Linked DNA regions of Homo sapiens. The protein of the gene in region 2 interacts with the protein of the main gene of each other region in a pairwise test. Each region holds a gene or a part of one and is shown on either strand. Other genes may lie near its edges. The genes, in order: TPD52L2, ABHD5, PLIN1 and PLIN5.

Region 1 (8,720 bases), on a different chromosome or scaffold from region 2:
CAGGAGGCAGAGGTTGCAGTGAGCTGAGATTGCACCATTGCACTCCAGCCTGGGCGACAAGAGTGAGACTCCGTCTCAAAAACAAACAAACAAACAAACAGAAAAAACAGGATATCCAGTTAAATTTGAATTTCAGATAAACAATTTTAAAATAATGTCTCAAGCAGAAGTTGGAACATACTTATACCCAAAAAGTATTTGTTTATTTGTAATTCCAATTTAACTGGCATATTATTCTGTATTTTATCTGGCAACCTAGAATGGGGGTAATAGCCCCCCAAATCGCTCCCTTTGTTAATTGGTCCCTGTCTTCTGTCCCCCAACCCCTAAAGGCAGCAGCTGACTCCCCCAACTAGGGGCGGGGCCTGTTAGGGTCAGGCAGTGCCTCTAACCCAGACGCTGAGCAGGAGAGCAGAGAGGGGGTGCTTCAGCCTGAAACTACCCCTTCCCCAGAAGGCTGGGGTCCCAGGCGGGCCTGGCACCTGGGCTCAGAGGCTCTGGCTGGATTTGCCAAACTCCCTGATTGTAGCATGTTTGTTTCTGGTCTGGGGAGCTGTTGAGTACCTGGAGCTGCCCTCTTCCCTGGGGCTCCTCCTGGCAGGCGGCTTCCGACCCTGCCCTCAGGTGGGCTGGCCCTTTCCAGGGCAGGAGAAAAGATACCTCTCCAGAAAAGAGGGAGGCGCAGCCTGGGAGTGGGGGCTCGACCCAGGAGCGAGAAAGAGGAACCCCAGCCAGGCAGGACCCGCCCCAGAAGGTCACTGCTGTTGCTGGCAGCCAGTGAAAAGAGGATCCAGAAAAGGAGAGGGCTTGTTTCTGGTCAGCACCGAAGAAGGAAGGTGTGGAGAGGAGGGGCCGGGCCGAGAGCAAATACCGCCTTTTTGGTGCAGCAGCAGCCCTGTCTCTGACCCCGGCCGTCCTGGGGAGATGAGGTTTAAACCAGCAGACCCTGAAGGGAAACTTGCAGGACCCACAGCAAGCCTGGTACAGGCGGAGGAGGCCTTGCTGTCCCTTTTTGGCCCGTGGGGCTGTCCATCTTAAATTTAAGGAAGAGGGAGGCGGGGTGCAGGGACTCACACCTGTAATCCCAACACTGTGGGAGGTGGAGGCGGGGTGCAGGGACTCACACCTGTAATCCCAACACTGTGGGAGGTGGAGGCGGGAGGATCGCTTGAGCCCAGGGGTTCAAGACCAGCCTAGGCAGCATAGTGAGACCCCATCTCAATTTAATAAATAAATAAGGAAGAAAGAGGGAGACAGTAGCTGCTCAAATCATGGGTGGGAAAGCTGGGCCTGGGAGCGTTTAGCTGGTGGGGTCTTGGCGAAGGCGGGGGACGGGCAGAACCTTGGGTTCATCATCTCTGGGAACCCTTTGTGCACCCATCACCTAGCAACAGGATGCAGCCTTCCCTCCGCCCTGGAAGGCCAGGTCACAAAGGCCATCAGGGCTTGTCCGGGAGCCGGTATCCCCTAAGACTGCCCTGTGCCTCTCGCGGCGATCCCGGCCCAGCGGCTGGGCGTTAGGGCCACCGCTCATGTGCGTCATCTGCTTCGTGAAGGCGCTGGTGCGCGTGTTCAAGATCTACCTGACCGCCAGCTACACCTACCCATTCCGCGGCTGGCCCGTGGCCTTCCGCTGGGATGACGTGCGCGCCGTGGGCCGGAGCAGCAGCCACCGGGCGCTGACCTGCGCGGCAGCCGCGGCGGGCGTGTGGTTGCTGCGGGACGAGACGCTGGGCGGGGATGCGCTGGGGCGGCCTCCACGTGGGGCGCGCAGCCAGGCGCAGTGCCTCTTGCAGCAGCTCCGCGAGCTGCCCGGCCAGCTCGCTAGCTACGCGCTGGCCCACTCGCTGGGCCGCTGGCTCGTGTACCCCGGCTCCGTGTCCCTGATGACGCGCGCGCTGCTGCCGCTGCTGCAGCAGGGCCAAGAGCGCCTCGTGGAGCGCTACCACGGCCGGCGCGCCAAGCTGGTGGCCTGTGACGGCAACGAGATCGACACTATGTTCATGGACCGCCGCCAGCACCCGGGCAGCCACGTGCACGGGCCGCGCCTCGTCATCTGCTGCGAAGGCAACGCGGGCTTCTACGAGATGGGCTGTCTGTCTGCACCGCTCGAGGCCGGCTACTCCGTGCTGGGCTGGAACCACCCCGGCTTCGGCAGCAGCACTGGCGTGCCCTTCCCTCAGCACGACGCCAACGCCATGGACGTGGTGGTCGAGTACGCACTGCACCGCCTGCACTTCCCGCCCGCGCACCTGGTGGTCTACGGCTGGTCTGTTGGCGGCTTCACGGCCACCTGGGCCACCATGACCTACCCGGAGCTGGGTGCACTGGTGCTGGACGCCACCTTCGACGACCTTGTGCCGCTGGCGCTGAAGGTCATGCCCCACAGTTGGAAGGGGCTGGTGGTGCGCACCGTGCGCGAGCACTTCAACCTCAACGTGGCCGAGCAGCTGTGCTGCTACCCGGGGCCGGTGCTGCTGCTCCGACGCACGCAGGATGACGTGGTCAGCACTTCGGGCCGCCTGCGCCCCCTGTCACCTGGTGACGTGGAGGGCAACCGGGGCAATGAGCTGCTGCTGCGCCTGCTGGAGCACCGCTACCCCGTCGTGATGGCGCGAGAGGGCCGCGCCGTCGTCACCCGCTGGCTGCGCGCTGGCAGCTTGGCGCAGGAGGCCGCCTTCTATGCACGCTACCGCGTGGACGAGGACTGGTGCCTGGCGCTGCTGCGCTCCTACCGTGCACGCTGCGAAGAGGAGCTGGAGGGCGAGGAGGCCCTGGGGCCACACGGACCCGCCTTCCCATGGCTGGTGGGCCAGGGCCTGAGCTCGCGGCGGCGCCGGCGCCTCGCACTGTTCCTGGCTCGGAAGCACCTCAAGAACGTGGAGGCGACTCACTTCAGCCCTCTGGAGCCTGAGGAGTTTCAGTTGCCCTGGCGGCTGTAACCTATATGCCCCAGTGGGGGATCACGCACTTGAACTCCTGGCCTTCTTGGTTCACCTCCCCATACCGCCAACCATTGCAGGGGGCCGGCGCCGACGCGGGGCGGGGCGGGGGGGGGCGCGCGGGGTGCTCCTGATCTGCTGTCTGGGGGAGGGTAGGCAGAACACGGGGACTTGGTGCTCTCCTTCCTTCACAGGGGCGTTCTGACCGTCCTCCCATTCTTCCTAGCTCTGTCCCCTCCTTTCTCTCTTCCTCCTACAAATACTTTTGGCTGCCCCCACCCAGCTCCTAAGGGAATGAAAGGTTAACCTGACCCGGTTTATGGCAATACTGTGTGATGGGTGCCTTGATCACCACAAAAGGATGATGGGAACGGGGCTGTGGGGTCCCAGGGAGGAGCCCTTCACCTGGCCTGGGTTACAGGATGGCTCCTGGGAAGACAATGCCAGCTGTGCGCTGAAAGTCTGTGCAAGCTGCTCCCGTGAAAAGGAGGACATTGGCATGGCAGGGCTGTGGGCAGGTCTTAGTGGCTGGACATTCCCAGGAGTTAGCACTGGCTATCATTCTGTAGGGCTCCCTCCCACCTCCAAACTCCTGGCTTCTACACCAGGGCATTCACAGACAGATTGCAGACTCACATGGTGGCATGTGAGGCTACAGATACACTTGCACAGGCCAGAGGATACTACTGCGTGTCCCCTGGAGCCAGGCCTGGGCTGGACTTTGTTCCTGGCTTAGGGATGCAACACAGAATGGGACAAGGCCTCTGCTCACAATGGTCTGTAATGTCACATCTCTGTGGTCTGCCCTGAACTGCCTGAAGCAGGGACTATTGTCCCTACATGTCCCTAGTCCCCGGGCTGGCCTGGTTGGGTTGAGCAAGAATCTCTGGAAAGAATGAAAGGCAGCAAATGGAGAAAACATTACTGAGAGCACGAGAGCAGGCTAAGGCCGTGGTGGTAAGGGACTCGGGCCTGTGCAAGAGTACCAGGAAGACACCTGTGGGAGGAGGTGGCCGGGTGAAGGAAGGGGCAGTGGGAGGAGCTTCCATGCCTAGGGACCAGTACCACCCCAGGCTGGAAGCCCAGAGTGGAGTCCTAGGACATCAGATCCTAAAGGGCTTGAATACCGTTTAAGGCTTTTCTTCCGGGAGCAAGTAGGAGCCAAAGAAGGGAAGTTGCGGGACTTGTTTTCGTGGGGCCAGTTGCCTGGTGGTTACGCGCCTCTCCTCTGAAGTCAGGCATCCTGTTCCAGAGTATCCTGGTTGCGCTTCAACTTGCGGAGTGACCTGGGGCAAGTGACTTTAACCTCAGCTTCCTCATCTGTGGAGTGGGGAGGGCGCAGCGCTGGTCGCCCTGAACAGGAAGTGAGACAACCTCGGGGTGCACACGCGCAGGCCCGAGCCGCAGGGTCCACGCCCGAGGCGAGGCGGCAGCGGCGCCTGCAGGGCGAGGGGACGAATCGCGATCTTTTTCAGAGTAACCCGCGTACAATAAAAAGTCCCCATGAAAAGGACAAACTAGCCAGGCGTGAGGGGCGGTGGCTCACGCCTGTAATCCCAGCACTTTAGGAGGCCGAGGCGGGTGGATCACCTAAGGTCAGGAGTTCTAGACCAGCCTGGCCAAGGTGGCGAAACCCCCGTCTCTACTACAAATACGAAAATTAGCCGGACGTGTTGGCGCGCGCCTGTAATTCCAGCTACTCGGGAGGCTGAGGCTGGAGAATCGCTTGAACCCGGAGGGCAGAGATTGGAGTGAGCTGAGATCGCGCCATGGCACTCCAGCCTGGGCAACAAGAGTGAAACTCCGTCTCAAAAACAAACAAAAAAGGACCAACTAAAAAAAGAATATAAATACAATAAATAACAGGACTTACGGGGGCAGGCTGACCCCTAAAGTAAGGGGTCGGGCTGGAAAGGATCTCAAGGGGTCAGAGTTTGAGCCGCCGAGGCGCGCGAGCCCCAGCACTCCTAGGCAGCTGCATCCGCCCCGGAAGATCCCCTGGGGCCCTGCGCTGGCTTTCCACAGCGCCATGTTGGACGGTCCTCCCACTTCCCACCTTCCCAGTCCTCCCGCTACTCTGACCGTTCTACCTGTGATTCTCGCTGGTGGAGTCAACCTGGAATGGATTCCCGCCGAACCACGCCTCCCTTTCCTGGTTCGCCCGCAGTTTCGGCCTATCAGGTTGAGTCGGGTAAACCAGGACGGGCCAAGCGGCACTCTCATTGGATATCACTGGTGGGGGCGGGAAGAAGGCGGAGCACGTGCCCGGGCGGAAGTAGCCGTCGCATCGCGGATTACGAAACGCCGCGGAGCTGAGGCAGTTCCGCTGGCTAGTGTGTACGCGGCGAGCTTCTCCCGGCGCCGCCCGCTCGGCTCCCATAGCGCCCGCGACAGCGGTCCGGACGCCGCCCGAACATGGACTCCGCCGGCCAAGGTACCTGCCGGGCCCGGCCCCTTCGCCGCAGATGGGCCCAGGCTGCCCGTTGTTCTCCGTCTCCCGGGGTCGCGTCTGCGACTCTCTGTCCTCTCGGTCTCGGTTCACCCACCCCGCGGCCCCTCTTCAGCTCCCGGGGCCACTGACCTCGAAGCTTATGATGGTCGTGGTGTGTTTTTTGCCCGCGGCCCAGACCGCTTCCTGGGCTCTCTCCAGCCGCCCTCCTGGTCTCCCCTGGGACCGTTCCGAGGTGTGGTTCCCTGGCGCCCGCCGTTGCTCCCGTAGTTTGGGTTCTGTCGCTCCCAGCAGGTCTCGCTTATGCCGCCCACCCCGTGCCCTGCTCTTGCTTGCTCTGCCACCCCCCGGTCCCTGCGCGGGGCCCTCGGGTTCACGCTGTCTGGCCCTGGACCCAGTCCGAGGTGTTGAGGGCGGCTCCCGAGCAGAGAAGGGGTCTTCGCGTTCAGCAGAGCTCCCCTTGGGCAGCAACTCTGCTCGGAGCTCAGCCTGCTTAGGGGTTGCCTCATGGAGAGGGGGTGGAGTGAGTCAGGGGCACACCCAGCATACCAGGCCTGTTTCCAGAACAGTCTCCCCAGAGCAGTATGAGATGGCCACTGAGGGGCGTGGAGCGAGCCCAGGAGATTAAAATCTTGAGAAGATGATAAAAGTCTGCCTTGCATTTTGGGGCTCTAGAGAGGGATGCTAAATTTCTTTCTTTCTTTCTTTCTTTCTTTATTTTTTTGAGACGGAGTCTTGCTCTGACGCCAGGCTGGAGTGCAGTGGCGCGATCTCAGCTCATTGCAACCTCGACCTCCCGGGTTCAAGCGATTCTGCTGCCTCAGCCTCCTGAGTAGCTGGGACTACAGGCACGCGCCACCAGGCCCAGCTAATTTTTGTATTTTTAGTAGAGGCAGGGTTTCACCATGTTGCCCAGGATGGTCTCGATCTCTTGACCTTGTGATCCGCCCGCCTCAGCCTCCCAAAGTGCTGGGATTACAGGCGTGAGCCACTGTGCCCGGCTACATATTAAGCTTTATAATTCCTAGGTGCTGCATTATTCTGGAGGGTGTTTTTTGTTTGTTTGTTTTTGTTTTTTTGAGATGGAGTCTCACTCTGTCGCCCAGGCTGGAGCGCAGTGGCTAGATCTCGGCTCACTGCAAGCTCCGCCTCCCGGGTTCACTGCCATTCTCCTGCTTCAGCCTCCCAACTAGCTGGGACTACAGGCGCCCGCCATCATGCCCGGCTAATTTTTTGTATCTTTAGTAGAGACGGGGTTTCACTGTTAGCCATGACGGTCTTGATACCCTGACCTCGTGATCTGCTTACCTCGGCCTCCCAAAGTGCTGGGATTACAGGCGTGAGCCACCGCGCCTGGCCTTTTTTTTTTTTTTTTTTAATTTTTTTTTTGGGGACAGCGTCTCCCTCTGTCTCCCAGGCTGGAGTGCAGTGGTGCAATCATAGCTTACTGCAATCTTCAACTCCTGGGCTCAAGCGATCTTCCTGCGTCAGCCTCCCAGGTAGCTGGGACTATAAGACTACAGGCGCACCATGCCAGGTTAATTGGTCTTTCTACTTTTTTTTTTTTTTTTGAGACGGATTTTCGCTCTTGTTGCCCACGCTGCAGTACAATGGCGCGATCATGGCTTCCCGCAACCTCTGCCTTCTGGGTTCAAGCGATTCTCCTGCCTCAGCCTCCCGTGTAGCTGGCATTACAGGCGTGCGCCACCATGCCCGGCTAATTTTGTATTTTTAGTAGAGATGGAGGTTTCTCCATGTTGGTCAAGCTGGTCTCGAACTTCTGACCTCAGGTGATCTGCCCGCCTTGGCCTCCAAAAGTGCTGGGATTACAGGTGTGAGCCATTGTGCCCAGCCTCATTTGTCTTTTTTTAAATAGAACAGAAAGGCTGGGCTCGGTGGCTTACGCCTGTAATTCTAACACATTGGGAGGCCGAGGCCAGTGGATCACTTGAGGTCAGGAGTTTGAGACCAGCCTAACCAACGTGCCAAAACCCCGTCTCTACTAAAAATAAAAAAATTAACCGGGCATGGTGGTGTGCTCCTGTAGTCCCAGCTACTTGGGAGGCTGAGGCAGGAGAATCGATTGAACCCAGGAGGTGGAGGTTGCAGTGAGCGGAGATCGTGCCACTGCACTCCAGCCTGGGTGACAGAGTAAGACTCGTCTAAAAAAAAAAAAAAGAGAATCAGTGGATAAAAAAGTGGATACGCTTCGTTTAGTAAGCGTTTGTGGAGCGCCAAGGAAGTGCACACGGCTCCAGTCCTATGGGACATTTGAAGGGAGTGAGATGCAGCCAGCTTTTAAGAAGAGTATCTTTGTTAAGTGCATTTAATCTGGTGTCTTTGTGTTGTCTTTTAAAAGGCATAGTTTTTTTTTCTTTTTCTTTTCTTTTGTTTTTTTTTTTTGAGACAGTCTCAAAAAAAAGAGACGGGGTTTCACCATATTGGCCAGGCTGGTCTTGAACTCCTGACCTCAGGTGATCCGCCCGCCTCAGCCTCCCAAAGTGCTGGGATTACCGGCATGAGCCACCCCGCCCGACCAGTTTTTCTTTTTTTTTTTAAAGAATTTTTTTTTGGCCGCGCGTGGTGGCTCAACGCCTGTAATCTCCCGGGTTCAAGTGATTCTCCTGCCTCAGCCTCCCAAGTAGCTGGGAACTACAGGCGCGTGCCACCACGCTAACTAATTTTGTATTTTTAGTAGAGACGGGGTTTCACCATTTTGGTCAAGCTGGTCTCGAACTCCTGACCTCATGTGATCCACCTGCCTCGGCCTCCAAAAGTGCTGGGATTATAGGCATGAGCCACTGCGCCTGGCAGTAAGCCTGTTTCTTTTCAGAATGTTTTGGTCAACAGGGAAAGTGTTACAATAGTCATGTGCTTGGATTTGGAGAGAATCGAAATAGACTGTTTTTCTTTATGTGAAATCTTGTAGACTTTTAGGGTAGTCAGGAAGATGCATTTGACATGAAGAAAAAACAGTGGCTGCAGGAATTTGAATGTGATCTGGGTGTAGTTGAGGTGTGTGGTGGCAGCACACCGCTCTGCACCTCTCTGCCTGCTGGCGGCCTTCTGGCAGTGGGATGAGAATCGGGAGGTAAGTAAAGGGAATTTTGTTTTGCTGCCTCCCTGAAGGAGCTGAATGAGCAGCATGTGCTCCTAGTACGTAATTTTAGCATGTGCTCTGTCAGATGTGTTGAGAGGAAAGTGATGCTTATTGTGTATATTAACCATATTAGGTTCCTTTTTTTAAAAAAAGTGGAAATTTGTCAGGGTATGGTGGCTCACACCTGTAATCCCAACACTTTGGGAGGCCAAGGCGGGCGGATCACCCG
Region 2 (8,014 bases):
AGGAAATTTAAAAAATGCATGTTTTAAATTATAGTTAACTTATCAACTAAATAATATAGAAAGTTTTAGTGCTTGTCTGTGTAATGAGTGTTATATGCACACATATATATATGTATTCAAATATATATTGTAGGTGGGAAAAAGCACACATTCTGATAGCTGTCCTCCTAAAGTTCCCCAAGGAAATATTAATATAAGAAGTAAAGAGTATTGTATTTTGACTTGCAGATGTACTTTAGGGCCTCAAAAACATGTAAGTTAGAAGGCACTTTTGTAGGTAAATAAATTCTTTAAACGTGGCGAGTAGCTCGTACGTAAAAATTAATGTAATAACTTGTATTTCTTCCATAATTATAACACATTAACTTCTAAATGAAGTAAACTGGTATACATAATTATTTCTGTGTGAAAATAAATTCAGCTTCTTCTTGGGACACTAGCGAGACTCCCTGCTAAGGTTATCCCTGGTGGCGCCCACAGCCCCACTCTAGAAAAAGCCGAGGACACCCAGGCGTGATGGCTCAAGCCTGTAATCCCAGCACTTTGGGAGACCGAGGTGGGCGGATCACAAGGTCAGGAGTTCGAGACCAGCCTGACCAACACGGTGAAACCCTGTCTCTACTAAAAATACAAAAATTAGCCGGGCGTGGTGGCGTGCACCTGTAATCCCAGCAACTCAGGAGGCTGAGGCAGGAGAATCACTTGAACCTGGGAGGTGGAGGTTGTAGTGAGCCAAGATCGCGCCACTGCACTCTAACCTGGGCGACAGAGCGAGACTCCGTCTCAAAAAAAAAAAAAAAGAAAAAAAGAAAGAAAGAAAGAAAAGAAAAGAAAAAGCCCAGGGCAAGGCCCACAAGGGAAAGAGGATGAAGAGCAGAAGCTTTCTTCTAGTCACACTTTTCTATTCTGAGGCCCCAGAGACTGACTGGTCTCCCTTTCTGCTACCACTACCCCATGACTCCAGCAAGGCTTTACTTCTCTACTGGCCCTCTCTTCCCATCTCTGATGAATTATACAGCTCCACCAAGAAATTCTGTCATGCAATTGATTCTACATCACCTCCCCACCCCCAAGTGCAAGCAATAATGGCAGGCTGAGGGCATGGCATTAAAGAGCCTCTCCTAGGTGTCCTCCCTTGCCCATCACTGTCTCCTAATTTCTCTTCATACTTTACTTTTCCCATAATTGTTATTTTTGTACCTGTGTTCTAGTAAAATCTATTTATATTTCAGGACTATAAAGACTAAATGAAGCTCTTAAGTAGTTTACCAGAGAAGGACCAGGCATAGTAAGGAGTGGCTCTACTGGGGAGGGCTGAAAGACTGCAGGTGGGCAAAATGTGCCATCTGTGAGCACTGAAGCAATAAAGTGTGGTCACCAATTCAACCCCCATATCCTCCTCTAAGTCCTGCAGTCCCACTGCTCTCCCAATCCAAACAGAAGGCACTAGGGCAGGAGGGGTCAGGGTTGGGCAGAAGGGAACAGCATTTACAGTCACCTGCATGACAGTTAATCCCACAACCTCCTCCACACCCCCATGCCTCTTCTCTTTTCTCACTAACAGAACCCATCTTTTCTTTTTTCTTTTCTTTTCCTTTTTTTTTTTTTTTTTTTTGAGACAGGGTCTTGCACTGTTGCCCAGGCTGGAGAATAGTGGTGCGATCTTGGCTCGCCACAACCTCCACCTCCCAGGTTTGAGTAATTCTCATGTCTCAGCCTCCTCTCCTGAGTAGCTGGGATTACAGGTGTGTGCCACTATGCCTGGCTAATTTTTTTGTATTTTTAGTAGAGATGGGGTTTTGTCATGTTGGCCGGGCTTGTCTCAAAGCCTGGCCTCAAGTGATCTGCCTACCTCAGCCTCCCAAAGTGCTGGTATTACAGGTGTGAGCCACAGCACCTGGTTAGAACGCATCTTTTCTATAGTATCAATTAGGCAGCAACATGCCCAGGAAAGCAGGCCCTGGAAACAAATCATGATTGGTGCATCACAGAAATTTCTTCTTTGCTGGTGGAAGGACTAGGAGTGGGCCGAGTCATAAGCAGAGGTCAGGTGGAGCCTTCCAGAGAGGACTTTCTTCCCTGACAAAGCATTATGGAGAGAAGGACCATTTTTCGTGCTTTTATTTCTTTTTGCTCAGGGCGCTGATTTGTGAGATGATGCTTAATGCTATGGCAGGCATCAAACCACCGTGAGGAAAAAAGTCAAGAAAATCACAGACACAGACCCAAACCCTAACATCAATGAGCAAGCAACCAGAACAAGTGCTAAAACCTATCTCCAGATTGCTTATTAAGGAAATAATAAAAGTCCTTCTAGTTTAAGCCTCTTGGGTATTCAGTTACTTACAACTAAAAGTACTCCAAATTCATACAAGTTGTACGGGGGAAAGGCAGAAGTTCAGAACATCATTATCTGTGACAATGAGGGAAGGAAATTCCCATGGCTATGGGGCTGAGACAGAACTGCTGAGAGTCAAATAAAAGTCAATCAGGGACTAAACACTGGTGCCTCAAAATATGACCAGAAATATATATCAGGAGTCCCCAAAATGTTGTGGAAAAAATAACTTTATCTTTCCAACACTCTGACATGGATAAGGGAAGAATCTGTGAGTGTGGTGGTACCTGTTATCCCCAGGGTCAATCAAATCAGGTTTTATGGTACCAAATGGTATCATCAATTGGCCAAACGCTCTCCAGTGCTCACCAGCAGGGCAACATGCTACACTTCTCCCAGGCCCTGGACTAGCAGAGGTCCTTATATACTCCCCAAAACACTCTGCTTGCCTGGCTTTTTTTAGAGTGTTGAGGACTGACTAACCTTATCCTCAGCATTCCCTCCTTTTCTGCTTTGCTAATTATTCACAATGTTTACAATATAAAGACTCTCCTTTGAGGAGAAGAACCTAGTTGCATTCGTCTTTGTGCAAGACATGGTACTTATTAGAGGAAGAGGAGAAAAAGTAAGGGTTCAGGGTTTTCTTGTTTGTTTTTAAGATTTTGACTAACAATAGTGAATTCTGCTCTTCTCATAACTTACAAACATTTTGCTTTCCTAGAACATAAGCACTCACCAAAGGGTCCTGCAATCCTTAGGCCAGCTAAAGGGTTAAAGGGAGTCAATGCTGCTCCCAAGGCTCTGATCCAAACTGGAATTGGTCTGTCTTGATCAGCAAGGTCTGGTCGTTCAGGGAAACCCCAAGGCTCCACTAAAATGAGATGATTAACCCTGTTGGGGGAAAGAATATATTTAAGTTCATTTGGTAAAATCACCCTAAGACTATAAAGAGCTAACATGATTTATAAAATAAAGGTAGAATGAACCACCTTCAAAAACCTTCACGTTAAAGATTAGTGCTAAATAGATCGTATCATGCTCTTATTCTGTGTAAACTTTTGAGATTCAGTAGGATCTAAGAGGTGTATGGTAGAAAGAGGGCTTTATTTTTAATATATCTAAATGTGAATAATAAAAGATATATAGAGTACAGAACTGTGTGTTTCTTGAGAAAAAGAAAAAAGGGCATTTGTTATTTAAGTTACACTCTGGCAGATGATGTAGATCACTGGCCACTCAGAAAAATCCAATGGTTCCATGTATGTCTAGGTTGACACTGCAAAAATGGCTAAAGATCAATATCACATTCTTATAAAATAGCCTCAGATACCAACAACAGTTATCTCCTATGAATCAACCATCCTAAAAATGTAAGTGAAGTTAAGGACTTAAAGCGGGTTCAAAAGTACTTTAAATTAACTTTTCATAAACATGAGGATAACGTAACGTGGACTGAAAACACTCCCTAGTTCAGGATTCTAGAATTGTTGAAAAGGAACAAGTCTATCTACCTTATCCATGATATCACGCTATACTGACATTAGATTCTGTTTTCAATTCTTTCCCAATTTTCTTTTTCATTGACCAAGAGATAGAAAATATTCAGTAGAACTTCATATACAATTATTTCATATTGTTAATCATTTTAATTTTTCCATCTTATGAAACTTCTTCCCAATGAAGGAAAACCAGAACTATCAGCAGTACTTCCACATAGCTGCATCATGCTTTAAACATCATAAAGATTCCAAACAAAGTACAAAGATCCTTCTGATACAATACAATGTTCAACTGTAACCAAGCCAGCCAAGAAATGCCAGCCAAAAATCTCCCAAGGATAACTGACAATGACTCTAAAGTCCCTTTCCTAAGTTATAACTGAAACAGAAAGGTAAAGAATCTAAAACATGGGCACAGATGGTATTATTCTTCATATAAAATCTATTCTATTATTGTTGTCAGCATGCATAAGAATAAGTTAGTAACAGGTCCATACTGTGACTGTTTTCTTTCCAGACAGAAAGCTTTGGTGCACAGAGCTCTATGGTACCTTGGAGAATATTGGGTGCAATCATCTTAGATAAGAAGGAAGCTGAGATGTACTACATGACCTGCTCCGGTACATAACATTAGTTAACACAGAACTAGGGCTGAAACCCACATTTCTCTACCCCAGCATACCAGCAGATGCCGACAAGGAATTGGGCAGAAGGCTTTATTTTCTAAAAATAGGCTAATCAACATAAGAGAGACATATTAGTAAAGGTAAAACTTAACCTTTATCAACTCTCAAGGCCAGTCCTAATATTATACTCCAAACTTCATAGCATTAACATATGTAGAATATAACCATAGAGATGTATGAAGATATGTGATAAATGAGTTTCATTTAATTATGAAGTATGCCTTCACAGCCTAAAAATTTCATATGAGAACATTTTCTAATAGTGTATCAGAAAGAGGTTAGAAATGAGTGTTTTGCTTTGTTTTTTAATGGCAAAGACTAACTCTTATATTTTGACCACCTCCTAAATTCCTTTTTATTTTTATTTGTTTTGAGATGGAGTCTCACTCTGTCGCCCAGGCTGGAGTGCAGTGACACAATCTCAGTTCACTTCAACCTCCGCCTCCCAGGTTCAAGTGATTCTCCTGCCTCAGTCTCCTGAGTAGCTGGGATTACAGGCACACACTACCACGCCTGGCTAATTTTTGTATTTTTAGTAGAGATGGGGTTTTACCATGTTGCTCAGGCTGGTCTCGAACTCCTGACCTCGTGATCTGCCCACCTTGGCCTCCCACAGTGCTGGGATTATGGGCCTGAGCCACTGTGCCCGGCCCTAAATTCCTTTAATTATAGCCCACAATAAGATCTGGGGTAGGGGAAGGAAGAGGCCTAACAGGGGTATGAGTAGAACTAATGAGACAGCCACCTAGTTGAAAGCAGCAAAGATTCATGTTAAGAAACAGCCACTATTATTCACTACTGACTTATCTCCCAAAGAGAAAAATGAACTCTTTATTAAAACATACCCTACCCTAAACAATTTAGTTAAATTTTTGTCACAAATTTGTTAATGGATCTTGCTCTAAGCTCTTTCTGACCTGCTAACCCAAAAACAGGTAGGACAAAGGAAAACTTGACAGAAGTCTCATCTGTCTGTAGGTAAGTGACTGTTTTTGCCTTAGTTCTGGCTTGCCTTTTAAATATGATCTTCAAAATTTCATCCCTAGGTGAAAATGCCAGTTTAACAAATTATGCAAAGTATATATACTAAGGCAGATGATCTTTTTGTTTCTTTTTGAAAAGGAGTGAACCGTGCCTACAATTGCTCAATTCTACTGTCCCTACAATTGCTCAATTCTACTGTCCCTACAATTGCTCAATTCTATGTCTTCATAACCTAGCATGAGGCTTAGCACATGGCAGATGCTTGGTAAACATTTGGATTAATATGCTTTTCCACATTTTCTTTTAGTCCTAGTCTATTAAGGATATACAAATTTTATAAAGTATAATCATAGCATAAGCATATCCAGCTGGATTTTTCTGGTCCCCCAGATGACATCAGAACATCACTGCTATTTATTAATCTTATTATTCGGTAACAAAATCCATTTAGATGGTCAAGAACCAGTCTAGTCTTTTTTAAAATAAAATTATACTGTTTGGAACAGAAAAATAAATCATAAGCATTGAATACCGGCCACAAAATTGTATTAATGTATATGTGCATGGGTGTCTGAAACAAGTTTTGTGGGGTGATACAATTGTATTTTTCTATTCCAAACAATATAGAAGGGCTATAGTAAAAAAAGTTTGAACATAATTTTTTAAAACTCTACAACATCTAAACTATAGTTAACTGTAGTTATATATCATCTGCTTCTACTACATGTAAAGACCCCAGAAAATAATTGTTCCTTATTTTTGGTTTTAAGAATTTTAAATAAGATAGACCATGCAAAGCACTCAGGTTGGTGGCCATCGAATAGTAAGTATTCAGTAAATGTAAGCTAGTTACAGTAGCAAGAATAGGAAGACTACAAGAGTAGAATTTATTCCCGGGAACATGGAAAGACAGGTATTTATTCTTCAGAAGAGCTTGATCACAGGTGACTGCAATGTTGCACCAGACCAAGGTCCCAGGCTATCTTCTAACCTCCGCTTTTAGTAAAAATATTATCTCCTCACTTGATAGGAGTTACTGGGTTTTAATGTACATCTAAATTATTATAATTAGCTAAACCCTACTCTTTAATATTCCAGAGAGGGTTCCCTGCTGGGATTGTTAGTTCACATCTAGGGTAAAGAATGGGTCCAACCAGATAGCACATGTGAGTCATCCTATTAGACATCCTTGTCAAGAACCAGAGACTGGTTTAAACCACAAGAAAAACAAAGAACCAGCAGAGCAGGAACAACAGAACAGCTCATCAGTTTTGAAATATACAAAGGCATTCTTCTTAATGTTAGTCATTAGAATTGGCCTTGAGTTTGAAGATGGTGAGCAGAGTACATCCTTAAGGGCAAAGCAGTGGACAACACCTGTACCAACACACTAGGACCTGATTTCACTTGCTCTAAATGCTAACAAGGGTAGATAAGCCTGACCTTCATGAGATTTAAAGACAGCCACCAGTCAGAAATAATGCAACAAGAACAATAATCAGGTCAGGCGTGGTAGCTCATGCCTGTAATCCCAACACCTTGGGAGGCCAAGGCAGGTGGATCACTTGAGGCAAGAGGTTCAAGATTAACCTGGCCAACACGGCGAAACCCTGTCTCTACAAAAAATACAAAAAAATAGCCAGACATGGTGGTGCACACCTGTAATCCCAGCTACTCGGGAAGCTGAGGCACGAGAATCACTTGAACCCAGGAGGCGGAGGTTGCAGTGAGCCGAGATGGTGCCACTGCACTGCAGCCAGGGCAACAGAGCAAGACACTGTCTCGGGGGAAAAAAAAAGAAAGGAGAACAATTAGACCTAGAATCAAAATGTGTAAGTGAATCTAAGGAAAATAATCAGAAAGAACTCTAGTCAATGCACAAAGGAGGCATTTGCAAAATGAAGTTGGCCCCAGGTATTTCCCATTGGCTCCAAGCCATTGGTGAGAGAAAAGGGAATGCCCAGAGAACAACAAACTAAATATCTCCAACTTCGAATCAAGTAGAACAGCTTTTCCTAGAACAGCAGAGGGCCAACAAAAATTGCTCAGCTCAGTTCTGTACAATCAGAAGACAGAGCCAGGCAAAAGAAAAGTATTCAAGATAAAATTATTTAAAAACCTTTTACTAGAGAAATAAAGACTAGTGAAAACTTATTCTAATCTAACTTGGAATAGATCTCTTTGCTAAACACTTTCTAAGTTAAAGTTTCTATAATCTCCTTTTCCGTAGTTTATAACAAATATCTTTAAAATACAGATAGTTTTTTTAATGGGGTACTGAGCAGCAGGGGCCAGAAGGAAAGGAAAATTAAAAGAAAAAACCGGGCCAGGTGCAGTGGCTCACGCCTGTAATCCAAAAGTTGGCAAAAATTGATCAGCTTTTATTTGTTCTTTAGAGTAAGAATCCTTCTTAAACAAGTGCATTAAACTAGGCCTTTTCATTCTTCTCTTCAAACTGTCCTATAAAAGTAACGAATGGAAGAATGGAGCTGCCCATAAAAGACAAG
Region 3 (7,929 bases), on a different chromosome or scaffold from region 2:
TTCAAAATAACATGAAGTGGGGGAATTAATGGAAGTGAGGACGAGGCGGGATTGGCCACGAATTCATGGTCTTCGGGGCTAATAAAGGGTACGTGGGGCTTCCTATGTTCTTTTCTGTCTATTCTTATGAATGTTGAGAATTCTCCATATCAAAAGTAAAAAGAAAAAAAAACCCAGGTCAGATTCCGATGCTCAGGCTCTCTGTAGCTTTGAATATGACACTGTGGCATGGTTTTGCTCGCAAAGTGAAGACCTGACCTGTTCTGTTAGTAGGAGGCAGAGTTCAAAGACCCCCATCAATGACACCTACATGTACACTAAGACAGAGCAGCCCACAATATCTTAGTTTTTTTTTGTTGTTTGTTTGTTTGTTTTTTTGAGATGGAATCTCGCTGTCTCCCAGGCTGGAGTGCAGTGGCGCGATCTCAGCTCACTGCAAGCTCTGCCTCCTGGGTTCATGCCATTCTCCTGCCTCAGTCTCCCAAGTAGCTGGGACTACAGGCGCCCGCCACCATACCCCGCTGATTTTTTGTATTTTTAGTAGAGATGGGGTTTCACTGTGTTAGCCAGGATGGTCTTGATCTCCTGACCTTGTGAACCGCCCGCCTTGGCCTCCCAAAGTGCTGGGATTACAGGCGTGAGCCACTGCACCTGGCCAATATCTTAGTTTTTTATCCTGCAGGTGAATTTGAAATTTGAACTAGAAATAGACTATGACTATAAACAAGAAAACATTCTTTTTAACATTTTGGACGAGGCTTCAGAGGTTGTTTTACACAAAACCGAAGGAGGAAAGAGATCCTGGGAAGGGAATAAACCACCGTCTGTTAGAATGGCTTAACCATGTACTTGACCATTTTACGCCTCTCTCTGTTCTATGATTCAATACAAAACAAAGTGATTCCTAGTGCAGGAGTTAGTAAAAGCGTAACTTGGGCAAGGTGGATATTGCACAGGTTCATAATTTTTAAGTTTCACTATCCGAACTGTGCCCAAATCTGAGATGCCTTGCCAGGAGCCATCAAGCATCCCTAAAAGTATCAAATCACTTCAAGTCACAGTGAAAACCAGGTCAGAGATAGAACACCAGACACATGGAATATCCCACCCTTCCCCCCACACAGCAGCACAGGCTGTGCACCGTCTAACTCCGACAGGTGACATTTGCCGTTATGAATGATGCTGGAGACACAGAATACAGTGGCTCTGCACTGAATGCACATCCAGCTGGGTGGTGGACAGAGCATGGGCTTCTGCGTCAGGGTTTAAACAGTAGTTTCCTTCCTCTCCACTCCCCCCGTCCCTAAGCCAGGATTTCTGTCCCTTTTTTTCAAGGTGCTTAATTTTTAATAGGCATCTTTTTTTCCCCTCCCAGATCCTCCAACTGCCCCCTACAAAAGGTGGTGAGGGCAAGAATAACTAAGCCATGGTAGTCAATGAACTAGGATTATAATCTGGGAATATCTTGCTCTAAGTCCCCTGCATCTCCCCTCCCTGCTTCTTCCTCCTCCCTCAGTTGTCCATCCCCTGTCACAGATGAGCCCAAGTTACTTACAGGGAGGTCTCCATCCAGCAAGGTGAGGCCTTTGTTGACTGCCATCCTCGCTCCTCAAGCTGCAAAACAGAGTCCCAGGTCCCATCAGAAGCCCTCAGGCTTGAGCTCCACTGGGTCACTTCCCTACCTCTCATGGCCACCAACTAGGCCCAGGCTGCCTGGGGGCCCATTTGCCCTGAACAGAAGGCATTAGGTTGGAGGGTGAATATCACACACAATAGCCCCACTCCTTAGGGTCCCATAGCAATGAGTTGCTCCATAGCTTACTTGTCAAGACTGATGTTTCTTTCTTTTTCTTTTCTTTCTTTCTTTTTTTTTTTTTTTGAGATGGATTCTTGCTCTGTTGCCCAGGCTGGAGTGTAGTTGCACAATCTCGGCTCACTACAACCTCCGCCTCCCGGGTTCAAGGGATTCTCCTGCCTCAGCCTCCCAAGTAGCTGGGATTACAGGCGCCCACCACCACGCCCGGCTAGTTTTTTTTTTTTTTTCTGTTTAGTAGAGATGGGGTTTCACCATGTTGGCTAGGCTGGTGTCGAACTCCTGACCTCAAGTGATCCACCTGCCTAGACCTCCCAAAGTGCTGGGATTACAGGCATGAACCACCACACTGGCTAATTTTTGTATTTTTAGTAGAGATGGGGTTTCATCATGTTGGCCAGGCTGGTCTCGAACTCCTGGCCTCAAGTGATCTGCCCACCTTGGCCTCCCAAAGTGCTGTGATTACAGGCAAGAGCCACCATGCCCGGCCAAGAATAATGTTTCCTATAAGAGTTCAGGTTAAGAGGCCAGGCGCGGTGGCTCAGGCCTGTAATCCCGGCACTTTGGGAGTCCAAGGCAGGCAGATCACCTGAGTTCAGGAGTTCAAGACCAGCCTGGGCAACATGGTGAAACTCCGTCTCTGCTAAAAATACAAAAATTAGCCAGACGTGGTGGTGGGCAGCTGTAATCCCAGCTACTTGGGAGGCTGAGGCAGGAGGATCGCTTGAGCCTGAGAGGTGGAGGTTGCAGTGAGCTGAGATCCTGCCACTGCACTCCAGCCTGGGTGACAGAGGGAGACTCTGTCTCAAAAAAAAAAAGGAGTTCAGGTTAGGAAATAAAAAATGCAGGTAGCCATAAGAGATAAAAAGTTTTAGATAAAATCTTAAGGCTCTTAAATGAGGGTCCAAAAGAGACTAAAACAAGAAGTTTCAAGCTGGGTGCACTGGCAAGCACCTGTAATCCCAGCTACTGAGGCTGACATGGGAGAATTGCTTGAGCCCAGGAGTTTGAGATCAGCCTCGGCAATACAGTGAGATGCCCATCTCTAAAAAAATAAATAAACAAGTTAAAGGTTTCATCTTTGAAAAGGCTCTGGGTTAATTCCTCTATTTCTCTCTTTCTCTCTGTCTGTCCCTCTCCCCCTCTCCCTATCTGTTTTTTGAGACAGGGTCTCAATCTGTTGCCCAGGATGGAATGTGGTGGCACGATCATGGCTCAATGCAGCCTTGACCTCCTGGGATCAAGGTACCCTCCCACCTCAGCCTCTCATGTAGCTGGGACTACAGGCATGCACCACAATGCAGGGCTAATTTTTTCTCTTTTTTTATAGAGACAGGATCCCACTGTGTTGCCCAGGTTGTTCTTGAACTCCTGGGCTCAAGTGATCCACCTGCCTTGGCCACCTGCAGTGCTGGGATTAAAGGCATGATCCACTGTGCCTATCCAATTCCTCTATTTCTAGATTCTGGTATCTATACCAGAATCTCTCCCTCAGTAGTTTCCCTGCAGAGTTTTTCATCCCCAGCAAAATCCCCAAGAGGCCCTTACCTTCAACTTCTTCCCTTTAATGTTCATAAACAAGCCATGTAAGGCAGGTGCCCCAGGACCCCAACACTCACTCCGGCTGACCGCCACCTCAGTCTCACAGAGCCCAGGCTGCAGAGTGTCTCCTCAGGCAGAAACAATTCCTGTCACTCCTGGGAGGCTTGGGCAATGCTGCTTCCACCTCCCAGCTAGAGGAGGGCAGAGAGGGAGAGACAACAGGGTCAGCCAGTTGTCATGGTTATATGACCCAGGGTTCCCCAGGCATATCCTAACTTCTCTAAGGACATTTAGCAAACAAGGAGGTAGGTGGCAGAGCTGAAGGAGATCCAGGCTCAGAGGACTTAGTATTCCAGAGCCATGAAGCATCAGTTCTGTAATGTTCCTGCCCTCAATTCACAAAAATCTGCTTTCCAGAAAGAAGGTATAGGGATAGACATCATTAAACTCAAAAGCTCTAAAGTTCTATATACCTCTGCAATCTTTTGGCTCCTTTTCCATAGAGGGTCTTGTGGGAGTTTTCAATCCATTTCTCTCATCTTTTCTTATTTACTAGCAAGACTGAATGCTGAACAGTAAAATTTAAACCCACACAGAAGAGTTCATCTGAATGTATTCATCTTTGATTATGGAGATAAATTGCCCTCAGTGAAGAAGCGACAGAGCCGGGAGTTGAGTTTTTGACAATATAGCCTTTGAGTTGAGGGAGGAATTCCCACTTCTTAGAATTCAAAAAAATTTATTGAACTTTACCTGGCCTAAGATGCTACCAGAATGAAGAGTAGGAGAGCCAAGTAGATTTTTATTCTCCTGGGTCTGGATAAGCGACAGTGTTGACTAGGATTCTATCACTAATCAAGAGCACCCAGACAGCCAAGAATTAGCACCACTCAACCCTTCTTTACCCAGGACTCAAGCACAAGCCCAAGTTCTAGTTCCTGGCTTTAGATATGATGGAGGACTATGGTATAAGCCATAGCTTTCAGATTAACTAAGAAGGGCCTCTTCATGAAAACAGACAATAGGAAAACAAAACTTATTTTCTTTGTTGCTGGTGGAATTATATGTATTGTTGACTCTGTTAAGTCACACAGTGTGGGCAAGAGAAGAAAGAGGCAGGGGTGGGGAATTATGAAAGATCCTTGGTAATAAATTACGTATCTGTGATGCAATAAAGTAGGGAATGAGAAGGCAGGAAAGGGAGGAGTCAAGCAGGGAGGCTTCAAAGGAGTAATACGCTATACGTTTAATACTTATTGATCCAACCTGTGCTTTTCAAATGTAAGGCAGTAGAGAAGACAAAGTATTTAAAGAAGTGGCCTCTGCCCTCACCTCAAGGTTCAGCACAAATTATCTGTGAGGCTGTGACTGGACAGCAACCTGAGCCAAAGGGCAGTTTTCAGCCTTCAGAGTAGTGGCTTTGGGCCAGAGGGAACATAGGGCTTTGTGCCTGAAAGCTCTGCCAAATCAAATAGTCCTTTGGCTGCTTTAGCTGGGAGTGCAGAATGTGGGTGAGAGGTGAGAAGTGGTGAAAGGGCCTAGGAGAGTCCCGAGGGAAGACAGAAGTGTTAGTTTTCTAGCAGTAGCTTGCAGGGCATAGAGTTCTATCTTCTTTCCTTCTCCGTACCTACCTGCTTTCCCTACCCCTCCACCAAGTGAGAGCAGGGACCTAGGTCATCTTGCTCACAAGTGGATACCCAAAACCATGCATGGCACTCAAACATTCATTGTTGAATAAATGAATTGTCAGGCAACAATGCTCAGTTGTGAATGTGCTGGGCTGTACATCTACGAAGAACTTCTTCGATTTTTGGCATCCCTCATGAATGTGGAGGCTCTGGGGTGGAAAACATTAGTTACAAAGAAGGATTCACAGGGTGGTACCAGGACACCATTAAGGTTTACACAAACCTCTTAGAAGAGGTAGTATTTCCCAAACTCCCCACCACTCACCATTGCAGAGGACAAAAGTACCAAGATGGATACCACTGTAACATAACATACCACCATGAATTCAAGGCAGACTTACCTAGGCAGAAGCCAGCCAGCGATTGACAGGGCTACTGTAGAGCACCATCTCCATGGCAGCAGTCTAGATGAGTTCATTTCAGAGGTCCCTCTCAACCCAGAGGCTCTACATCTCAATCTTTCTCCATCCTCCTCCTCAGCCTGGATCTTCTAGCCCAGAGCTCGCTGTACCAACTGTGTAGGCTGATTGAGGATTATCTGATGGATTGCCTTATGTTTAACTCTTCTCTCTTCCCAGAACACACTCACAGACACAAGTCAATTTTGTCTAGAAATTTATTGAACATAGTTAATCTATTACAGTAGAGGATCTGGACAATAAAAATAGTTATTTAAGCTTTTTATTTTCCCTGACCTAGTAGCTTTCATGTCTCTTAAAATTCCCTAAATTTTATTTCTCAAATCCCATATCGTGATTGGTTAAACAGACAGCCAAGAATCTGAGTCTATTTTTTGAGAATCTCAATCACATTTCTGGGAAATGTGACTTATTGAGTACATATTTATTTTCTCATTTCCATTCAGATAAATGACACAGCTTTGCTGGGAGGACTGACATCGGCCTCCTACCTGCTGGCATCCTATTTCTCTACCTCACCTCCCTCAAACTAAAGGATCTGTAACCACATATAAAGACCCACACCCAAGATGGCAGATAGGAACACAAGTCAATGTCATTGACTCAGCATTCCATTGTCCTCTTCACTGGCTTCCTCCTGCGCTTTCCACCTCCCTCAATCACCCTAGAAATAAGATGTCTGATTTATCGTAGAAAATTGTGACTCTCTTACATCTGGAGTATTCATGAAATTTTTTTGACTGGATAAATTTTGATGAAAATTAATGTAGAATTGCCTAAATTGTTAGAAGGATTTAAATAAAACAATCTAACTGATAAGTCTAAATACTGTCTTAATTTTTTTTTAAGACACAGGGTCTTGCTCTATCACCCGGGCTGGAGTGCGGTGGAAGCTCACTGCAGCCTTGAACTCCTGGGCTCAAGTGATCCTCCTGCTTCAGCCTCCAGAGTATCTGGGACTACAGGCATACTCCACCATGCCTGGCTAATTTTTTAACACTTTGTTGTAGAGAAGGAGTCTCACTACATTGCCCAGGCTGGTCTTGAACTCCTGGCCTCAAGCAATCCTTCCGCTTCAGCCTCCCAAAGTGCTGGGATTATAGGTGTGAGCCACCACACTCCACCCAGTTTTAGTTTTTCTAGAAAAGAATATAAACCACTGGACAAGGAAATTTCCAAATTATGGGAGAGTAAGAGGCAAAAAACAGGATTCAGGAGGGGATCACATTTCTACTCAATTCTGAAGACAGTGGGAGAGCATGGAGAGAACACTGGATTAGGAGTCAGAGGAATGAGGCTCTAGCCTCAGTTTTTTGTTTGTCTCACTGTCAGCTTCTTATCTGTCACAGGCTACATATAGGCACCCATTGTGACCCTGTACCTATTTTTATAAGTCCCTCCGGTCTGCTTCTGATTTTTGCTTATTCACTGCACCCATAGACACAATTTATACCATGAAGGTGCCTGATGCTTTTCTGATTCTACTTCTGCACAGAGCAAGGACATGAGTGCAGTGATGGTATAAGGGCCAACAAGTTGAGAGGCTGTAAGCCCAGCTCTCCTCCATCCTGCTACTGACATCAGAGCCTCTACTAGATCTGAGAGTGCCATGCACCAGACCTACTGTAATCGTGAAACCAATGATCCATATGACCCTAAAGTTATTGTATACTGGTGTTCAATGATCAGTGCGATTGGGTCTTTTTAAATTTTTTCCTTTCAATTTTTATTCATTCAGCAAATACTAAGCTCCCACTATGCACATAAGAGATGTTCAATCAATGTTAGATGAAGGGAAAATATTCAGAAATTCACAAGTCACTCCAGCACTCCAAAAACATACAACTCTTCATGCTCCTCCCTTCTCCGTTCTTGGCCTCATCTCTGCCCACATCACAGGTTGTTAAATGCTCACATGAACAAGAACTTAAGCACAGTATGACATGGCCTGTGACTTATACAAATGTCTGTCCCACCAAGAGGCCATCTTTTAAAGTAGGTACTAGTTCCAAGCCTAAAAACACCCTAACGGGTCTTCAGCTTCATCTGAGGATATGCCACAGTGATCATGCCTGCTATAGAGGACACAAGACCTCCAAGTCCAATGATGCCAGGATTGGATTTATAGATCCCCAGCTGGTCCAAAGGGTTCAGGATATCACAAAGGTTCTTCACTGTGTCCAGGAGCAAGGGAGGATGCTGCTTCAGAGATCGGAATAAAAGAAGTAGAAAGGATTGGAGCCATTCTGTTTCCTCCTCAGCCACGCTGAACCAAAGAGGATCCTGGGATGCTGATTTCTCTTTCTTTGCCCTGTCACATGTAACTCGTTTCATCTGCAGGGAGATTTCATACAGATCCCTGACCAGGCTCAGCAGAAGAGAATAGTAGTAGTGGTGAGCAGCCCTCGTTCGCCATTTCTCTTTGTTGATGCCAGAGGTGAGACCTACGCTCCTCACCCAGAGGATG
Region 4 (4,208 bases), on a different chromosome or scaffold from region 2:
GGAGGAGGCATTGAGGCTGGGCCTTGAGGATGTATGAGATGTGTCCGAGGGACGGATGGGGGGTGGGAAGAGTATTCCAAGGTGGCCGCACAGCCTCAGCAAAGGCCCGGAGGTGGGAATGTGCCCACTTCAATGGTAAGAGAGCAAAGTATCCAGGTCAGGCTGGAGGAGGAAGCTGGAAGGTGAAGAGTTTGGTCTGTGGGCAGTGGGGACCTGTGGGAGATTCCAGAACAGGAGCAGGGAGGTAGATTTGGCTGGTGGAAGTGGTCGGAGATCCCAGAGCTGCCCTCTGGACTATGTCCCAGGGAAGTCAGGGGCCACCCTGACCTCACCATACCAAGCTGTGGTTTCCCAACACCCCGCCCAGCCCCAGGGGAGTCGGAAGAGCAGCCAGGAATGCGGTCAGAGGACAGGAGGAAACCCCCGAGACCAGCCTATGGCCCTTGCCCTGCCTCTGTCTTCCCATCCTGGCCAGTGCAGCTGGAGAGACCACAGCAAGACCAGCTCCTGCAGGACCAGGAGGTAGAGAGAGAGCTGCCCCATCTGACTCCTTCCCCATCTTTTCTGCTCCCTGCAATTCCATGAAATTCACCTGTACCAAGATGAGAACAGCTTCCATGCGGCCAAAGGGGCAATGCTGTTGTTTATTTTTAGAGACAGGGTCTCACTCTGTTGCCCAGGCTGGAGTGGAGTGGTTACTGATCCAAGCTCACTGCAACCTCAACTTCCTAGGCTCAAGCGATCCTGCTGCCTCAGCCTCCCGAGTAGCTGGGGCACAGGCTCGTACCATGTGTCATTTTAAAATTTTTCGTAGAGACAAGGTCTCCTATGTTGCCCAGGCTGGTGTCAAAACTCCCGGGCTCATGAAATCCTCCCACCTCAGCCTCCCAAAGTGCTGGGATTACCGATATGAGCCATGGTGCCCGGCTAATTTTAAGTGGTAATGCTTACCCCACATGGGCTGGGCAGTAACGGTGGATCCCAGACAGGATGACAGGCAGGTCAGAGAAGCACCATTCTTCTAGATCTTGAACTCTGGCTCTACACACCCCCTTCTCCATGTCTCAGCAGTGACACACCTCCGTGGCCCCCAGCCCCCTGGGACTGAGACTCACCCTGGCTGGAACACACACGTGGGCCTTTCAACAACAAAAAGGACCTTTATTCTGGAGGCAAATCCCAAACAGCAAAGCAAGCGAGTATGGCAGGCTGAGCAGCACGGCCCATGGGCAGAGGAGGGCTCACTTTTCAAAGTTCCAAATAGGGCAAAATGTGTGTTTCCCTAGGAAGTATTTTTTAAAAACATTTTTGAGATAGAGTCTTGCTCTGTCACCCAGGCGAGAGCGCAGGGGCAAGATCATGGCTCACTGCAGCCTCCAACTCCTGGGCTCAAGCAGTCCTCCCACCTTGGCCTCCCAAAGTGCTGTGATAACAGGTGTCAACCACCACACCCAGTCAGGGCTCACTTTTCAAAGCCCCAAACAGAAGGCATTGGGCAAAATGTGTATTTCTTCGGGAGGCTGTTACTATTATTTTTTGTTAGATGGAGTCTCGCTCTGTCACCCAGGCTGGTGTGCAGTGGCGCGATCTCTGCTCACTGCAAGCTCCGCGCCTCTCGGGTTTAAGCAATTCTTCTGCGTCAGCCTCACAACTAGCTGGGACTACAGGTGCACACCACCACACCTGGCTTTTTTTTTTTTTTTCTTTCTTTCTAAGTAGAGACAGGGTTTCATCATGTTGGCCAGGATGATCCCGAACTCCTGACTTCAGATGATCCACCTGCCTCAGACTCCCAAAGTGCTGGGATTACAGGCGTGAGCCACTGTGCCCAGCCTCTTGGAAAGATTTGGATTCGCTTCATGGAGCCAGGGAGCAGGACATAGGTGAAGAACCCAGCTTGTGGCTCAAGTTGGCCTGAATAGGGTTCGAGGCCCTGCTCCCCCGGGCCTCTTTGTCCATGTGTTCAAGGAAAAAATGGGAGAGTCCAATACCAAAAAGGTGGTCAGAGATCCGGAGTTGGGCCTGATTCCAAAGAAGGGTCAAGGCCAAGGCCTCGAGCTTACGTGTGGCCACCAGGGGGCAGCAGGGATCGGGGTGTGCAGGTGGCCTTTCCTCCCCGCCTCCACTGGCCCATGGGTCAGAAGTCCAGCTCGGGCATCAGGGTGTGCTTGACCGGGCAGCTGGGGGTCTCGGGTTCCTGCTCGCAGATGTCCCCGGCAACACCCATCCTGTCCCCATCCCCATTCCCACTCCCGTCCCTGTGCTCTGCCTCCCAGGCTCTCTGCTGGGCCGGCCAGTCCAGGTGCGCCCAGCGGGGGTCAGGGCCCCCGATGACCTCGTCCACCAGGTCCGCCAGGTCGGGCAGGGGCTCGGGTCGCTCCACAAGGATGGGCGCGAAGGGTCCCACCAGCCAGGGCAGCGGCACGGCCTGCACCACCAGCTCCAGCAGCTCGTCCACGCAGGCGTGCGCGTGGGCCACGCGACCCCGGCCCTCGGCCAGCGCGGCCGCTGGCACGTCCCTGAAGCAGCGGGCATCAGCGAAGGCGGTCTGCAGGGCATCCACACTGCGCCGCACCTCAGCCACCTTCTCCTGGGCGCCGGCGGGCAGGCCCCGCACGCTGGACTCCAGAGCCTCTACCGTGCCCTGCAGCTCCTGGGTCAGGCTGCGGGACAGCACCAGCGTCTCCAGCTCTGCCTGCAGGGGGCGGGGACCTCAGTTTCCCCTATGGACGCCCAGGAGGACTGCTGTCCTGCCTCGGTTTCTCTGATGGACCCACAGTGGAGCTGTCAACCTGTCTCATAGACCTCATAGTCCTGTCCCCTGTAGACACAGAATGTGACCCAGCCCTGACTCAGTCTCCTTCATAAACACACAATGGGGCCGGTCGCGGTGGCTCACGCCTGTAATCCCAGCACTTTGGGAGGCCGAGTCGGGCGGATCACCTGAGGTGCGGAGTTCAAGACTAGCCTGGCCAACATGGCGAAACCCCGTATCTACCAAAAATACAAAAATTAGCTGGGCGTGGTGGTGGACACCTGTAGTCCCAGCTACTTAGGAGGCTGAGACAGGAGAATCGCTTGAACCCGGGAGGCGGAGGTTGCAGTGAGCTGAGATCGCGCCACTGCACTCCAGCCTGGGCGACAGAGACAGACTCCTTCTCAAATAAATAAATATAAATAAAGTGGAAAGTGGAGAGATGGTTTCTAGGCTATAGGTTCAGGGAGAGAATGTGGAGGGAGGGAAAGCGAGAAGGGGCGGGAAGCCAGGGACTACTGCTTGCTTGGGCCAACACCCCCCTTTCCCCCCACCTCCCTCCATCTCAAAAATAAATAAATAATAAAATAATAAAACTCCATCTCAAAATAAATACATAAATAAAACACACAATGGGACTTAAACCTGCCTCAGTTTCCCCCCCCAGACACCTCAACTAGCTGAGCTCAGCACTTGGTTTGAGATAGCTTGAGTTGGGTCCCCGGCAGTACTGGGCTGACCCGCAGTCCGTCGCTCCCCCTCTTCCTCCGCGGCCTGGTGGCAGACACCACCTCACCTGGCACTCCTGCGGTCTCACCTGGCTCCGGCGGCGGCTCTCCGGAGGGCGCTGGCCCCATTCCCCCCACAGCTCGTGCACCTTCCCAGGGCAGGCCGGGGCGGTGGGGGTCACCCCACACTGCATGTGGTCTATCTGCAAGGACAGAAATGGTGGTCTTCAGAGCTGGGGGAGCTGGGGGAGCTGGGGGTCGGGGTGGGGTCCAGGACCACTGATCTGGCCTCAGTAAGCATTTAGGAGACCGAGGCAGGTTGTGCAGGGCCGTGGGGAAGACTTGGGCTTGGACCCCAAGGGAGGTGGGAGCCATAGAGGGCTGTGGGTAAAGAAGGGACAGACCTGACTCAGGGGCTCACAGGTGCCCTCTGGTGGCTGCTGCGGGGAGGGAAGAGCTGAGGATGGGAGGATTCTGATGAGGAGGAAGGCTCTCTTCTGACCTACCCTAACTTGCTATAAATTCCAGCTTCTCCTTCCCCTCTTCCACAAAACCCCTCCCTGACTCTCCAGGCAGAGCCATGACATCCCTGGGCTCCTCCAGGCCCGGGTCCCCCAGCCCTGAACACATGCAGCTGGAGACAGCTGCACCCAGCTCCGCCTCCTGCTTTAGGCTAGCACGGGATCCGGTATTCAGCTGGTGCTCAATCCATACTGATTGGCCTG

Evidence for each region.
Region 1: the proteins of ABHD5 (region 2) and TPD52L2 interact in binary tests that used the Homo sapiens proteins (3 or more experiments, as listed by UniProt).
Region 3: the proteins of ABHD5 (region 2) and PLIN1 interact in a protein complementation assay, tested with the Homo sapiens proteins (3 studies listed by BioGRID, with this or other methods).
Region 4: the proteins of ABHD5 (region 2) and PLIN5 interact in binary tests that used the Homo sapiens proteins (3 or more experiments, as listed by UniProt).

Annotation. Positions count from the first base shown.
Region 1 is NC_000020.11:63,860,009-63,868,728, forward strand, and holds the start of TPD52L2 (tumor protein D54), read left to right. Parts: upstream 1-5,261; 5' UTR 5,262-5,357; coding exon 5,358-5,376; intron 5,377-8,720. Other genes in the region: ABHD16B, read left to right, coding at 1,533-2,942.
Region 2 is NC_000003.12:43,706,924-43,714,937, reverse strand, and holds part of ABHD5 (1-acylglycerol-3-phosphate O-acyltransferase ABHD5), read right to left. Parts: intron 3,230-8,014; coding exon 3,075-3,229; intron 1-3,074. UniProt on the Homo sapiens protein: Coenzyme A-dependent lysophosphatidic acid acyltransferase that catalyzes the transfer of an acyl group on a lysophosphatidic acid.
Region 3 is NC_000015.10:89,675,890-89,683,818, forward strand, and holds the start of PLIN1 (perilipin-1), read right to left. Parts: upstream 3,479-7,929; 5' UTR 3,362-3,478; intron 1,615-3,361; 5' UTR 1,601-1,614; coding exon 1,556-1,600; intron 1-1,555. Other genes in the region: PEX11A (peroxisomal membrane protein 11A), read right to left, coding at 7,488-7,929. UniProt on the Homo sapiens protein: Modulator of adipocyte lipid metabolism. Coats lipid storage droplets to protect them from breakdown by hormone-sensitive lipase (HSL). Its absence may result in leanness. Plays a role in unilocular lipid droplet formation by activating CIDEC.
Region 4 is NC_000019.10:4,521,391-4,525,598, forward strand, and holds the end of PLIN5 (perilipin-5), read right to left. Parts: intron 3,687-4,208; coding exon 3,573-3,686; intron 2,696-3,572; coding exon 2,138-2,695; 3' UTR 1,141-2,137; downstream 1-1,140. UniProt on the Homo sapiens protein: Lipid droplet-associated protein that maintains the balance between lipogenesis and lipolysis and also regulates fatty acid oxidation in oxidative tissues.